Homo sapiens: one gene and its partner. The protein of the gene in region 1 purifies or fractionates together with the protein of each later gene. This does not show direct contact. Each region holds a gene or a part of one and is shown in the gene's direction. Other genes may lie near its edges.

Region 1 (7,788 bases):
CCAGGGAAATTCAGTCACTTGTCAAGTCCTTCAACTAAGATGACCAGGCTGGACCACAGTCCAGGTCTCTGCCACCAGGCAAGGTCTAGAAGCTCGCCCCAAACACCCAGCCTTTCCCAAACCTCAGTAGAGTGTGACGCTGCTACAATTTAGGCCCCTCACCAGAAGTGCCACCACCTCTGAGCTGGCCCACAGCCTGCCACCCTTGCAGCGCTCCTACAAGTATTATCTGGGGTGAGATCAGTCCTCCTGAGCCCCTCTTTCCCACCCTTTCCTTTGCCTATTGGCCTTGCAGTCATCCACAGCAAGTGACCTATAAGCTCTCTGGACTTGCTTCCTTATCTTGGAAAAGGGGGCTCTTTGCAGTAGCATTCTATGGCTACCCTATTCCCACCTCCCCTGAGCCCCCTCCTGCCAAAAGCCCTATGCCCTTCGTTTGTCATTCCTAGGCTGGCATCACAGACACGGGTGAGCTCCCCATCGCCTGTTGCTGCATGCAGTGTGGGTCTCTGAGGGACTTGGCTGGAGGGCGTGTGGGGCAGGTGCTCCCTGTGGGGGTTGCCTGGGGTGGCAGGCAGCAAGGTGGCAGGGGGGGCCAGGAGGTCTGATCTTTAAGGGAAGGCTCAAAGCTGCACAAAGGGCTCAAAACTGCAGAGTCTCGAGGGCACTTGGACTGGTGCACAGGCTAAACCAATGCCCAGAGGAGAGGAGGAACTAATTCTAGGCCACACAGATGGCATGGAACTGGGACCAGGACCCACTGACTTTAGCTGGTGGTTTAGAATCCACAGGGGCCTCGTTAAAGATGACAGAGAAATTAGGATGTGGTAGATCTGGAGTGGGGCCTGGGAATCTGCATTTTCAGCAAGCCCTTGTGTGTACAGACGTGCATGCCTGTTTGCATGTGTGTGTTGGGGTTAGGATCTTGAAGCACAGCCAGCTGGGGCTGGACCACCCAGGGAGGAGTCACAAAGGTTTTCAGAGCTGGATTTGTGGTCCAGGCCTTGGGGGGCCAAAGCTGGTCATCCACCAGGGCCACACACCCGGCAGGAAGAGGGCAAAGGAAGTGCTGACCTAGGGGCCATTTGATTGTGCTGGAGCAGAGGCCACACTCTGTCCTTGCCTGGCCCAGGCTGGATGGGGAGCCCCCACTGCAGGCCACTGTGGCTCCTGTCCCCATCCTCCCCCCGGGCAGGCCCAGTGTCTAGACTCTCAGACTGAAATTGGTCTTAGAATTCTTTCAGCTACAATAACAAACACAATCAGAGAATCAACAAACATTGGGAGGTTCACGTTTCCAAGTTGGAAGGGACCTTATAAGTAAACGGTCATTTCTAGCAGACCGCCCATTGCACAGATCCATTCCCTGGCATTCCTGCCAGATGGTCATCCCACAACTGTTGGAAATGAGTAAGATCTGCCCTTCCCCATGCACCTCCTGCATGCTAGACATTGTCCATCTATCTCAAGTGAGCCCCTGTATGCCGCAGGGTTGGAGAGAACTACAAGAAACCTTGTACCATTTGATTGATAGGTTCTACTGCTGTTTCTGAGGCCAGATAGACCTGGTTTTGAATCCCACCTGCCTGATGCGTGGTCCTCTCTGACCCTGAGTTTTCTCATCTGTAAAATAGAGTGATAGTTGCCCAACTCCACGGGTCATTGAGAGATGTATACAAAGGGCCCAGCACATGGATGTGTTGGCTATTATTAGAATATTAATTTTCCCCATTTTACAAATACAGAAAATGAGGCTCAGAGAGGTGGGGAGACTGTCCTAGGTTACCCAGCCAGTGAGCAGCTGCACTCCACAACCCCAGAGGTTTAGTTTTAATGACATCCAGGAGCTCTGGGCTGGAACTCCTGACTGCCCCGAGACACCTCTGGAGTCACAGAGTGTACCTCTGTTGGGCTCCACAGCCCCTCTCCAGAGCCCAGAGAAGGGTGACAAGGTCTGTGGGCCAGGTCTTCACCGGCAGCCTTGCCAGGACAGAGAGGAGTAATTATGGAGCTAAAGCCCAACCAACCACACGTTAGGGTCACCTGGAAAACTATTCAAGTACCAAATTTTGAGACCCATTCTAGCGCCACTAAATTTGAATTTCTGGGGCCAGAATCTGCACTGTGAAAAAGCTTCCCAGGCAGTTCCAAGGCTGCTGGTCAGGCACTGGGAGCCATTGGCCTGTACCGTGCATGCATTAGGGGACGGGAGTTTGCTACCTCTCATGGTGGCCTAATCCACATGGATGGGACATTCTGCGCATCCCAAAACTGGAGAGAGAAAGCCTCCCATTTCGGTGAGTTACCCAAGGCTCTTCCCCTCTGTGCTCACCCCTGAAGAGCTGAGGGGGCTCCCCATTCTCCCTCCCACCCATTCACACTGGCATCTGGCCCAGAGGATTACTTATTAGGTGGCTGGGAGTGGCCCGCCCCTCAGCAGACACCTGTTATAGGAGCCTGGACTTCCCCCTTAGCTCCAGCGTCCCAGGGGCCTGTAAATAATTCATCCCCAGCCCTCTCCCCACCCCACTGCTCTCACACACCTCCCTGCCCGCTCCTTCCCAGGCTCCAGAGGTATCTTGGGGCAGTTGGGAGTTCCAGCCCAGAGCTGGGACTGGAGCCCAGGGCTCCTGGGGCTGTCATTAAAAATACAAATTAACACATACACTTGATAAAGATTTAAAAAACCCAAAGTCTCCCTCCTACCTGTGGCTTTCCAACCTCCAGTGCCCTCTCCAGAGGCAGCCCCTATTACTGGCTTCTTGTATATTCTTTCAGAAAGAACTATGTTTGGGTATGTGTGTGTCTCCCCCATTTTTATACACAAATGGTAACATACTATTTACACTATTCTGTCTTGCTTTTTTTTTCACACGTCTTAGAAATTGTTCCATACTGGGATATATGGGGTTTTGAAATTTCTTTTTAATGACTGCATAATGCTCCTCTCCACGAATGCACCATCCCTTCTCTCACCAGCTCCCTGCTTGTACACGTGTACATTGTTTTTTGTCTTGTGTTATCAGAAACAGATGGAGCTTTGGGCAGCTCTTGGTCGGATCAGTTACTGGAAGTGGGATTCTTCGGTCAAAGGGTATGTGCCTGTTAAATGAGGCTAGATATCGCCAAGTTGGGCGCTAAGGAGGATGTTTCAGTTCTCACTCCTGGAACAGCATATGGGATTCCCTGGTTTCTGAGCCACACGGTGTGATAGCAAACATTTTGTTCTTTGGCAGAGCCATTTTCTTGCACGAAAATTGTGTGTTTCAAGCAGCTCCACCAGAGAGAAGTTGGCCAATGGGTTCCTGAGCCCACCAGCTCCTCTCCAGAGCCCAGAGAGGAGTGACAAGGCCTGTGGGCCAGGTCTTCACTGGCAGCCTTGCCAGGAGAGAGAGGAGTAATTGTGCAGCTAAACCCTATCTCCATCTGGTCTCACTCCTGACCCCCTCCCTTGTGGAAGAGCTGGGCCTGAGGTCAGAAACCTGAGTCCTGGTTCATACCATGACCAGTCAGGACAGCCCTCTGCAAGTGCCCTTTCTGAGCCCATTTCCCCCCACCTATGAAATGGCTCTCATGGGTCTGGGCTTGCTCGTCAGAAGAGGCAGGAGTGGGTGCTAGGACTCTAAGGAAAAAGCACCTTCAGGACCACTGCCTGTCATCCCTAGGCGAAGGTCTGGGTGGGCAGGGAGCCTCATGCCCTACCTCAGGCCTGTCCTCCTGGGGGTGGCTGTGAGTCCTCTGGGCATTTTAAGGGCCCCCAGCCTGGGGCTCTCAGTAGCCTTCCCTCACCATGGTCTGGGCTCTCCTTTCCCAGAAGTAGCAATGGAGGGGTGGTCTGCTATTTAAGCTTCTGTTACCAACACTTTGGGGGCTCCATGGCAGGCTCAGTGGGCCCTAAATTTGGCAGCATGCGGAATTGTACCCTGGAGAGGCAGCAAGAGCTCTAGGGCATGGGGCATGGCCTTGGGCAGGCCCGTGCCTGCCTGGGCCTCAGTGACCCTGACTACACAGGGAGGTAGGACTGGAAGGGCTCACCAGGCCTCTTCTTTGGCCCTCCAGCTGCCATGCAACCATTGTGAACCCCGATCTCTTCCTCAGTAAAGTGCGAGGAGACTAAACTCTCACAACCGCTTCCAGCTTTAGCCCAGTGAACCCAATGGGTCTGTGGATTCAGAGCCATGTTGGCCTCCAGTGCTGGTGGCATTAGGCAGAACTGTTTTTGAGCCGGCGTTGCATTTTCTAGGCCAAGGAGGGGCCCAATCTGGAGCCAAGGCCTGGGCAGCCACTCCCTTATCCCTTTCCTGGGGCCAAACCTGGCTGAAGTCCGAGGCTATCCCGTGCTATGCTGGGCAGCGGACTGAGGTCAGTGGACATGGAAGCGTCCAGTGTGGTTCCTCTGCTCTGGCAGGAAACCCAGGGAAAAGCTGCCCAGGAACATCTGCTGCCTCCCATTCTCCACAAAGCCATTTGGCTCACGGAGAGCCCAGTGGCTGTCCTGCCAAGCTGCGTGGGCTTGGTGGAGGGGGACAGGCGTCAGAATGGGGGCGGGTGAGTGGTTAGTACAGGGGTGCTGAGGGACAGGCAGGGCCAGGGCTGAAACCCAAGAAGATGAAGGCTGGGCTGTGGTGGGGACACTTGCGAGAGGCGGGAGGGGTTGATGGTCTTTCAGAGACCCGCCATGCCCTGGTGGGAGCGTGTGCGGGTCTGGAAGTGCTTGCGTGCGCCTCCTATTTATAGCCACGTGCTCAGCTTCTTATAAAGGAAACTGGTGCTTAGCCAGGCCCCACACAAGCCCAGGCCAAGCATGACTCTTAGTATTCTCTCCAGACAGACCTCTGATCCCAGTCCCAAAGAAAGTCCTGACATTAACCTCAGCTGGTCCTCAAATCCAGCTCTGGGCCCCAGGCTGAGCCTCATAAAGAAGCCAAGGCACCGCCCTCTCTCCTGGGTTACGGCAGCTCTCCCTGCACTTCCCCTTCCTCTTGCAAATCTGTTCTCCATGCAGTAGCCAGAGTAATATTAAAACCTACATCAGACTTCATGTCTCCTCTGCTCAGAATCCTGCAATGGCTCCTGTCCCAGACAGAGGAAAACCCAGAGTCCCTCCCCTTGTCTCCTGTCCCGTCCCCCTTCTCACTGCACCTCAGCTCCACCAGCTTCCTCACAGCTCCTCACTGTCAGACAGCAGGCAGACAGCAGGCATGCCCCACCTCGGGGCCTTTGCACTTGCTGTTCCCTCTGCCTAGAAGCCTCTCCCCAGATGTCTGCATGACTCTTTTTTTTGTTTATTTTTCTTGAGACGGAGTCTCACTCGATCACCCAGGCTAGAATGCAGTGGTGTAATCCTGGCTCACCACAACCTCCACCTCCCAGGTTCAAGCAATTCTCCTGTTTTCCCGCCTCAGCCTCCTGGGTAGCTGGGATTACAGATGTATGCCACCACGCCCGGCTAATTTTTGTATTTTTTAGTAGAGATGAGGTTTCACCATGTTGGCCAGGCTGGTCTTGAACCCCTGACCTCACGTGATCCACCTCCCTCAGCCTCCCATAAAGTGCTGGGATTACAGGTGTGAGCCACCGCGCCTGGCCCTACATGACTCTTTCCTGTACCTCCTTTACACCTTTGCTGAAATTCCCCTTTTCAGCAAGGCCTTCACGGCCCATTCTATTTAAAATCACAGACCACCTCCTCCCTAAATTCCCAGTCCTCCTTCCCTGCCTCCTTTTCTTCTGAAACACTTATCAACTAGTGTATCAAATATTTTATGTTTATTTTTCTTTTCATCATCTCCCTCCCCTAGAAGCTAAGCATCACGAGGGCAGGGGTTTTATTTTGCTCAGTGCTGTAGCCCAGAGCTTGGCTCACAGCAGGAGCTCAGTGAGGATCTGTGGGATGAGCTGCATCTCTCCTGCCCGGTGCCTGGACACAGGGGGATGTGTGGACGGCTTGGGCAGACCAGCCTCCGGCCTCTGGTGCAGGCCCAGCTCAGGGCTTGGTATCGTGAGCCAGAGCCTTTGAGGTAACTGGCAGGTCCTAGGGGTCCAGCAGCAGCCCCAGTCCTCCCTGTCTGATGTTGAGGCCATCCCCAGGCATTCGGCAAGAACTAGGGAGCCCACACCTGGGACAGTTCCAGATTCTTTCTGCTTCCACCTCTACCTGTGGTGGCTCTTCCCTTCTCTCTTCTCTTGCACAGGAGGAAGGAGCAGCTGCCATCTCATTAGTCTTGATCACCCTTGCCTGCCCGATATCCCCTCCGTGTCTCCAGCATTCAAACCTATCTGATATCTGACCACAGAGTGGAGAGTTTGTTAAAAATGCAGATTCCACCCCCAGGCTTTCTGACTAACTGGTCAGGGATGCCCAGAACCTGTGTTCTTCACAAGCTCCTGGAGAATGGCTGCTGTGCAGCCACATCTGGAAGCTGCTGGTTTAAAGTTGTTGGAGCTGGCCTTCAGAATAGGGCTCTGGGTCAGGAGACCTGGGCTGAAGCTGCAGCTCCGTCAGCAGCCTGCTGTGTAACCCTGAGCTGGTTGTTTTGCCTACCTCACTGCCTCCCTGATGGGCATGGGAGGAGTACTTGCCTCCCAGACTGTGAGTCTGTGGGTCTGAGTCTGGGAAATGACTGTTTCCCTTGAACCTGGAGTGTATGTCTCTCCCCACCTCAGGGTCCTACTTCAGGGAGCCTGGATTGTCTTCCTCCTGGGGGTCCTGCCTGGGCCTTTTTTGTAGCCTCCTCCTCTCAACTCACCTTCCTTCCCGGCTCCTTCTGCTTCTCAGGTAAGACTCGGACCAAGGACAAGTACCGCGTGGTCTACACCGACCACCAACGCCTGGAGCTGGAGAAGGAGTTTCATTACAGCCGTTACATCACAATCCGGCGGAAATCAGAGCTGGCTGCCAATCTGGGGCTCACTGAACGGCAGGTGTGTCTGTCTTCCTATCTCAGCCATAGGAGCAGTGCGAGGACTCTGGTCTCCAGGCTGCCAGGCAGAGTACAGAGCTCAGTAGAAGGAAAACAGAGAGGTTGAGTCTCCAGGCCATTGTCACACAGCACAGCAGAAACTGAGGTGCTACCAGCACCCTCCCTTAACAAAACCCAGTATCCTTGCCCCCAAAGGCAGGGGTAAGGGGATCTGATTAGCCACAGGCTACAGCAGGCTATTATTAGTGCTGTAGGAGGTGCACGTGCTATTTACATTAGGGGAGCAGTCACAGGGATAACAAGGAAGGCTTCCTGGAAGAAGTGTGGCCTGGGAAGATGGAGAGGGGGAAGGTTACAAAGAAGGGCATCTCCAGGGTAGGGGTGCAATGTCTAGAGGGGGAGAATGAATTCAGGGTCCATGTGGTCTGGGAGGCTGGAGAGGAGATAAGCCACAAAGCCACATGGAGAAATAGGGGCTCACTGTCCTCGTCTCTCCTTCTTGCACTCTCTCTTTCACTCTCTCCCTGCTGCCCACTCCATCTCTGTCCTCCAACCCCACAGGTGAAGATCTGGTTCCAAAACCGGCGGGCAAAGGAGCGCAAAGTGAACAAGAAGAAACAGCAGCAGCAACAGCCCCCACAGCCGCCGATGGCCCACGACATCACGGCCACCCCAGCCGGGCCATCCCTGGGGGGCCTGTGTCCCAGCAACACCAGCCTCCTGGCCACCTCCTCTCCAATGCCTGTGAAAGAGGAGTTTCTGCCATAGCCCCATGCCCAGCCTGTGCGCCGGGGGACCTGGGGACTCGGGTGCTGGGAGTGTGGCTCCTGTGGGCCCAGGAGGTCTGGTCCGAGTCTCAGCCCTG
Region 2 (7,393 bases), on another chromosome or scaffold:
GGGATGGGAGGGTAAGGGTGTTGCTTGCTTTGTAGCTGTGGAAAGTAATCTTGAAATCTGGCTTGTGGGTCCTGTGAAGTCAAGAAAGGTGTGAGAGTTAAGGGGTTTCAAATTAATTTTACTCAGGATTCTTTGTTGTTGAAGAAGAGATGGAAGATTTTTTGAATGTCAAAGAGTTTAATGCTAGTAGATTTATAAAAGAGGGAGATTGATGTGTCTGTGTGGTGCATTTTTTTCATCCCTGCCACCGTGTAAGATTTTAATTTGCATTCTTTGTGAAGGTGATATTTCTGGGGGAGATAAATCCAAGAAAGGGGTAAAACGGAAGAAGATTTCAGAAGAGAGTGGAGAAACAGCAAAGCGGCGGTCTGCCCGTGTCCGAAACACCAAGTGCAAAAAAGAAGAGAAAGTAGACTTCCAGGAGCTTCTGATGAAGTTCTTGCCGTCCAGGTACTGTGTATTTTTTCTGATTGTCAGAAACAAACCCACAAAGCTCCAGCATACACCATCAGTAACATTTCTCATTCCATTGCCACCCTCTTCTCTGGTCTCCTCCTCTGTGTTCCCATAACATCTGTGCAGATGTCTGAAGCACAAATCTCACTGGAGTAGGATCTTGGATTTTTCTCGCCTCTTCCCACCTCTGAAATTCCTGAAGTCAGGAGCTGTGACTTGTTCATCTTTTGAGAGCTAGAAGCAACATACTCATGTCCCTGTGTATTTACAAGACATCTATTTGTTGCTGGGAGGCAGAGGGGTGCTGTGCCTTGGGTGCAGATGCCCTGAAAACCCCATGGAAGGGAGCTTCCCTCCTGCTTTCAGGGAGTCCGTGTCTACTTGATTTGCTCCAGGCTCAGCAGGATTCCCTTGCATTCTGAGAAGGTAGAGGAGGAGCTTGTGAAGTATTCCTGGGTTTCACTCATTCTTAGTGCTTCTCAGGAGCCTAGGGGACAAGCAGGAACCAGGCTCCCCAGAGCTGGGAGGGACTTGGTCCCCAGTGCTTCTTACTTAGGTTTTCACCAGTCCTTCTGCCTTTTTTTTTTTGAGACGGAGTCTTGATCTTTCGCCCAGGCCGGAGTGCAGTGGTGCTATCTGGGCTTACTGCAAGCTCCACCTCCCGGGTTCATGCCATTCTCCTGCCTCAGCCTCACGCATAGCTGGGACTACAGGTGCCTGCCACCGCGCCTGGCTAATTTTTTGTATTTTTGGTAGAGACGGGGTTTCACTGTGTTAGCCAGGATGGTCTTGATCTCCTGACCTCGTAATCTGCCCGCCTCAACCTCCCAAAGTGCTGGGATTATAGGCATGAGCCACGGCGCCCGGCCAGTCCTTCTGCTTTTTGTCCTTGCCTGCTCACCTCCTTCAGAGGCTTTAGGATCCTCAATTTCTGAGCCTTCCTGGAGTTTATGGTGCCAGTGGGTTGGTTTCTTAATACTCCCCTTTCTCCTCCCTTAGCTGAGTGGAGAGGCCTCTCTCGGCAGACACCATTCTTCATTTGCACTGGGCCATCTGCCTTCTAACAGTTGGCTGGTACATTTTTTGTCTGCTGGGGCATCCTCGCCTATCTTCTGTCTTTGTGAGTTTATACCTTTTTTACTCCTTCGTTGTTACTGGAATGGAGTTTGGGAGCTAACCATATGTGTTCGATATGCCATCTTTAAACAGGAGTTAAACTATCTAGTTCTTTCCCATGACAGTTTATTTCAGTGGTAACAACATCAAAGTGGTGAAGGAGAAGCCAGAAGCTTTAGGTGGTTTGTAAATTTATTTTACAGCAAGATTCCTAATTTTCTTAATTTGTTGTCTTTCTGAGGTGAAGGTGAAATGCTTAGAAATAATGATTGTTCTCAGTACTTGACGCAGAACCAAAGTGGGGCTGCAGTGCCTTCTGATGAATTTTTCTTAAGGGGTAATACCAGAAGAAAGTTTCTCTTTGGAAGAACTGCAGGATTGTTCTTTGGTTGATGGTGCCAAGAGATTTGAGTGACCCTATATTCCCCTTAGCCCTGCTTTTTACTCCAAGGTCTTGTTCCCTAGTCCCATTTACCTGGATGGTTTCGACTTTCTTTTTAATCTTCATTTTAGTTGTTGGTTTCGTTTGTGGTTTAGTGTCTGCTCCTTTGTTGTTTATTTTTGTTAGAGATGGGGTCTTGCCCTGTTGCCTAGGCTGGAGTACAGTGGCACAATCATAGCTCACTGTGGCCTTGAACTCCTGGACTCAAGGGATCCTCCTGAATACCCAGGACCACAGGTGCACACCACTATGCCCAGCTAATTTTATTTCTTGTTTTTTGTAGAGATGAGGTCTTGCTATATTGCCCAGGCTGATCTTGAACTCCTGGCCTCAAGCCGTCCTTCTGCCTCCACCTCCCAAAATGTTGAGATTACAATCTTGAGCAACCACACTTAACTTAGTTTCTGCTTCTTTGAATGGTCAAGGCAAGAGCAACATGGTAGCTCGCCTGATGGAGTCACCCTGGGAGTGTGTGCAATACGTGAATGAAGACATTCACAAGTGCCCTGAGTGTTTATGCTGCAGGGGTTCTGGGTTGAGGGAACACCACAAGGTTGGCTGAAATGGGTCCTTGGGAGGAGTGCCTGCCAGGAGAGGCATCCCCAGTCCCGAGACTGGGCCCACCCACAGCTTTGTGAGGAGCCACGGAAGGACCAAGTTCAGATGAGCTTGATGTATCCCCCAAACTCCCACCTATCTATCCGCTTTCCACCTTAGTTGTTGGGCTCCCATGAGGTCCTAGAACACACCAGGTGCTCTTCTGGCCTGTGCCTTTGTACCTGTTCTTGTCCTGCATCTTTGTATTGCAAGCCCTTCTCCTCCTCCAGTGTGTCAGCATGAACATTATCCCCTCTCAAAGGCTTTCTCTGACCCTGCTCTCTAAAGCAGGGCCCTTTTGACCCATAGTCTCAAGCACTCTGTTGTGAGGTGGTCCTTATTTGGGTTAGTTTGTGTACCTGCTTATTGGCTGTGTCTCTCTAGAGGGTAAGCTTACTGCAGGCAGGATCTGCCACATTTAGGGCTGCTGTATTTGGTGCCTAGCACAGTGCCTGGCACATAGCTGGTGCTCGGTAATCATCTGTTGATGAGATGAATGACCGAGACAGGATACAGACCAAATGCTGGCTCATGAGGCCCTGGAGAGAGGCAGAGCCTCCTGGAGGCCTGGGTTCTGGACCCCACCACCCACTTATTTTAGCTGCCTTCTTCCTGACTCAGATTTAGTTTCTCTAACAGGAAGAGTTCAGATGCTTGTGTCAGAACGTGTGTTGTGACTTTGTGATTTTGGCATGTTACATGCAGGTTAAGAAAGCTGGACCCTGAGGAGGAAGATGATTCCTTTAATAACTATGAAGTCCAGTCAGAAGCCAAACTGGAAAGCTTCCCAAGCATTGGGCCTCAAAGGCTGTCATTTGACTCAGCCACATTCATGGAATCTGGTAGGAATCGAGCAGTGTGACCATTCACTTTGGGAATTCTTCTTCCCACTATCCTATAACCTGCTTATGTTTTGTTCTGGGAGAATGGTTCTGGGGTGTTTTTTAGTGTGGCCAAGAGTCTGCCTGGATTAGTCTTGGACCTAAGCCCTGTGGTCAGCTTGGAGGTCTTCTGAAATGTCCAGGCTCATACTTGCTATGCTTTCTTATGGCCAAATTCAGAGACTTCGCTTTGCAAATTGAATCTATATAAGCACACCTGTTGAGTGTGTATCAGTGTATAACTGTTGAGTGAGATTAGTGCACATGGCAGCACTTGGAGGTCTGCCCTTTTGATGTCCACCTTAGATACGGAGATTCAGAGAGGCTCAATCATAGCTGCTGAGGGTTGGAGCCAGGCATTGAACCCAGTAGCCTGATCTCAGCACCACAACGTGGTATCATGTCCACCTGGATCAGATGGTAGAGGGAGGGAACAGTCTTTACTGTCCCAAAGTAAATAGGAGACCCTGGCATGGAAGGTACTCTTTATTCAAGTCAGGTTGTTCTTGCTCCCCGGGCAGAAAAGCAGGACGTGCATGAGTTCCTGCTGGAGAACCTAACCAACGGGGGCATCCTGGAGCTGATGATGCGCTACCTGAAAGCCATGGGCCACAAGTTCTTGGTAAGGTGGCCTCCAGGCTTGGCGGAGGTCGTGCTCAGCGTCTACCACAGCTGGAGGAGGCACAGCACCAGCCTGCCCAACCCGCTGCTGAGGGACTGCAGCAACAAGCACATCAAGGTTAGGGGGAGCCTCTCAAGGGCTGGTATTGAACTGGGACCAGGGCATGGGGACAGGGATCTTGCATGGGTGTGGGGCTGCTGTTGTGTTTGGCTGCATCTACTTGTGGGCCTGGAACCTGGTTTTTTTGTGGGTGTCGAAGCAGGAAGTCACTGAACCTAGTTTGTGCCTAGAAAGCTCCCTGATGGCTGAGTGGAGGATACACTTAGGGGTGAGAGTGGGCTCACGGGGCTATCAGGAGGCTGCTGCCATGCCAGGGGAGCAGTGGCTGAGATCCAGTGGTAATAGTGGGGTGCTGGTTTGTGGTTGCAGAGCTGATAGGTTGAACTAGACATGGGATGTGTGAGGGAATGAGAGTCATGGGGAGGGCTTCTCGGGTTGTTTACTGAGTCACAGGAAGCCTTGCCAGGAGAAGCTGGAGGAAAGGGAAACATTTGGTTTGTTTGAGTTGGCAAGGACTGTGACTGAGGCTTTTGTTGTTGTTGTTTGAGACAGGGTCTTGCTCTGTTGCCTAGGCTGGAGTGCAGTGGTGCAGTCACGGCTCACTGCAGCTTCAACCTCCTGGGCTCGGGTAGTCCTCCCACCTCAGCCTTCAAAGTAGCTGGAACCACAGCCGTACACCACCACACCCGGTTATAGTCCCAGCTACTCAGGAGGCTGAGGCAGGAGAATGGTGTGAACCCGGGAGGCGGAGCTTGCAGTGAGCCGAGATGGCGCCACCGCACTCCAGCCTAGGCGACAAGGCGAGACTCTTGTCTCAAAAAAAAAAAATTTGTTTTGTTTTGTAGAGATGGGGGTCTCCTTTTGTTACGATGTTAGGATGTGGTCTTGCCATGTTGCCATGTTGCCCAGACTGGTCTGGAACTCCTGGGCTCAAGTGATCCTGATGCCTTGGCATCCCAAAGCACTGGGATGACAGGCGGGAGCCACCATGCCTGGCCTATGACTATTTTTAACAGATGATAAAACAGCAGAAGCTAAATAGCGTGCTTAGAGAAGCTTTGGGGGCCACCAGCAGTAGGGGGCTGAGCCTCACTGAGCCTTGTCTTCCTGCTGCATTCCACACCCCAGCCTCCTCCACTTGGTGCCTCCTGGAGCTCAAGGGAACACAAGGTGCTCTGGCCCCTTACTCCTGTTGGAGGTGGGACACTGAATGCTGAAGCAGGAGCACCAGGAACATTCAGGGATGCCTGGTGGTCTTTCTGACTTGAGAGCACAGGAGGTAGAAGAGCTTGTAGGTCAGTCATCCCTTGGTGGGCACCCTCCACTGAGTTACCTCAGGGCAACCTCCTGGCAGCTTCTGCCCACCAGGCCATGCTCCCCTGGGGCAGTTGTGAAACAGCAGGAGGAACCAGGGCTTTGATCCCCAGGCAAAGCAGGCTGATGATCACCTTCCAGCTGTGCCCAATGGGCAAGTGCCTTCTCATCACTGAGCCTCAGCTTCCTCAAGTGCCCTGGGAATGGTATACCAGCTGCCCAGAACTTTTAAGGGTTGAGTTCTATAATTTGGATGCAGTGTCCGTCCCAGCACTTGGCAGGTGACAGGGCTGCCTCTTCAACAGGACAAGAACTCTGAAGACCGGTCTCCTGGCCTCTCCCAAGTCTTGTCCCAACATACATCCATGTGGCTCTTTTTATGTTCTGGCGAGTAGCCACTGATTATCACTTATGAAATGGCAAGTGGATAGAAAGAATTATATTTTTATCAAAAAGTATAGTTTTGTTTCCTTCCACAGCCCCCTACCCCCCACACTGTGAAGAGGCTTTGTGATACTGTTCTTGACCTTCCTGTGTCTGTCCTGCAGGACATGATGCTGATGTCTCTCTCCTGCATGGAACTCCAGCTGGACCAGTGGCTGCTGACCAAAGGCAGAAGCTCTGCAGGTAGGAGGCATTATGTGTTCTGTGGCCAGGCTAATATCTGAACCCCCAGCAGCTGGGAGAAAGCTGAGGCGGGAGACTGAGTCATGGAATTTAGCCTTATATCTACAGTAGGCACATTTTTTGGGTTGGCTTGTCAGGGTCCCAGGGAAATCTCCTGGATACTCAAGAAGTGGTTAGCAGTAGCTGAGCCCCCAGAGGGAGCCACCTCCCTGCTTTGCTGTTACACAAGATTGAAGGAAGTGGGATCTCAGTTTTGGTGTGACTGTTCAATGCAGTGCTTTATGTATTATGTAGCTTCAGTAATTTTTCTGGTGATACGGATTTTTTTTTTTTTTTTTTTTTTTTTTGGTAAGACAGCGTCTTGCTCTGTCACCCAGGCTGGAGTGCAGTGGCATGATCTTGGCTCACTGCAACCTCTGCCTCCCAGGCTCAAGTGATTCTCCCATATCAGCCTCCCGAGGAGCTGGGACTACAGGCGTGTGCCACCATGCCTGGCTAATTTTTGTATTTTTTGGCAGAGATGGGGTTTCACCATGTTAGCCAGGCTGGTCTTGAATTCCTGACCTCTAGTAATCCGCCCACCTCAGCCTCCCAAAGTGCTGGGATTACAGGCATGAGCCACTGGGCCCAGCTTCATTCTGACTTTTAAACTACCACCTGGTGGAATGTAGATATACTCAATGCTGTCTGTAAAATTGCTTCCCCTTGCCCTTGCCCCTGACTCTCGGCAGGGGGCAGGGTCTCTGCATATCTTTGTCTTAACTGGTCCAACCTCTCTGATGCCTGCCACTCAGGGAGCTGTAGGGCTCTGAGGGGCTTAGGGTGCCCCTGGAGATAGGGTGGGTGTGGTTAGGGCCAAGTGCAACTTCTGAGAAGCAGAAGGGCATTAGAATGCTACACATGAAGTTGACTCGTTGGCCTGATGGTTTTTAGTGTCTCCTCGGAACTGCCCTGCTGGTATGGTGAATGGCAGATTTGGACCTGACTTCCCAGGGACCCACTGCCTGGGTGACCTCCTACAGCTGTCATTTGCCTCGTCCCAGCGCGACCTGTTCGAGGATGGTTGGCTGGAGTTTGTGGTCCGTGTTTACTGGCTGAAGGCTCGCTTCCTGGCGCTGCAGGTTAGTTCCATGGTCAGCTGCTTGGGGAGCATGCCCTGACACCCAGCAGGGTGGGCAGAAAATTGACCATGTTGAGGGTGTGTGTGTGTATGTGTGTGTGTGTGTGTGTGTGCATGCATGTGTACATGCATAGCACCTGCCCGGGCACTGGGCTTGG

The links. Proteins that work in one complex are often made in the same cells at the same time.
Region 2: the proteins of CDX1 (region 1) and CABIN1 purify together in Homo sapiens (affinity purification with mass spectrometry; 2 studies listed by BioGRID and IntAct, with this or other methods). This does not show direct contact.

The regions. Positions count from the first base shown.
Region 1 is NC_000005.10:150,175,990-150,183,777, forward strand, and holds part of CDX1 (homeobox protein CDX-1), read left to right. Parts: intron 1-6,778; coding exon 6,779-6,924; intron 6,925-7,484; coding exon 7,485-7,691; 3' UTR 7,692-7,788. UniProt on the Homo sapiens protein: Plays a role in transcriptional regulation. Involved in activated KRAS-mediated transcriptional activation of PRKD1 in colorectal cancer (CRC) cells. Binds to the PRKD1 promoter in colorectal cancer (CRC) cells.
Region 2 is NC_000022.11:24,055,911-24,063,303, forward strand, and holds part of CABIN1 (calcineurin-binding protein cabin-1), read left to right. Parts: intron 1-281; coding exon 282-450; intron 451-3,316; coding exon 3,317-3,453; intron 3,454-4,013; coding exon 4,014-4,231; intron 4,232-6,036; coding exon 6,037-6,115; intron 6,116-7,048; coding exon 7,049-7,236; intron 7,237-7,393. UniProt on the Homo sapiens protein: May be required for replication-independent chromatin assembly. May serve as a negative regulator of T-cell receptor (TCR) signaling via inhibition of calcineurin. Inhibition of activated calcineurin is dependent on both PKC and calcium signals.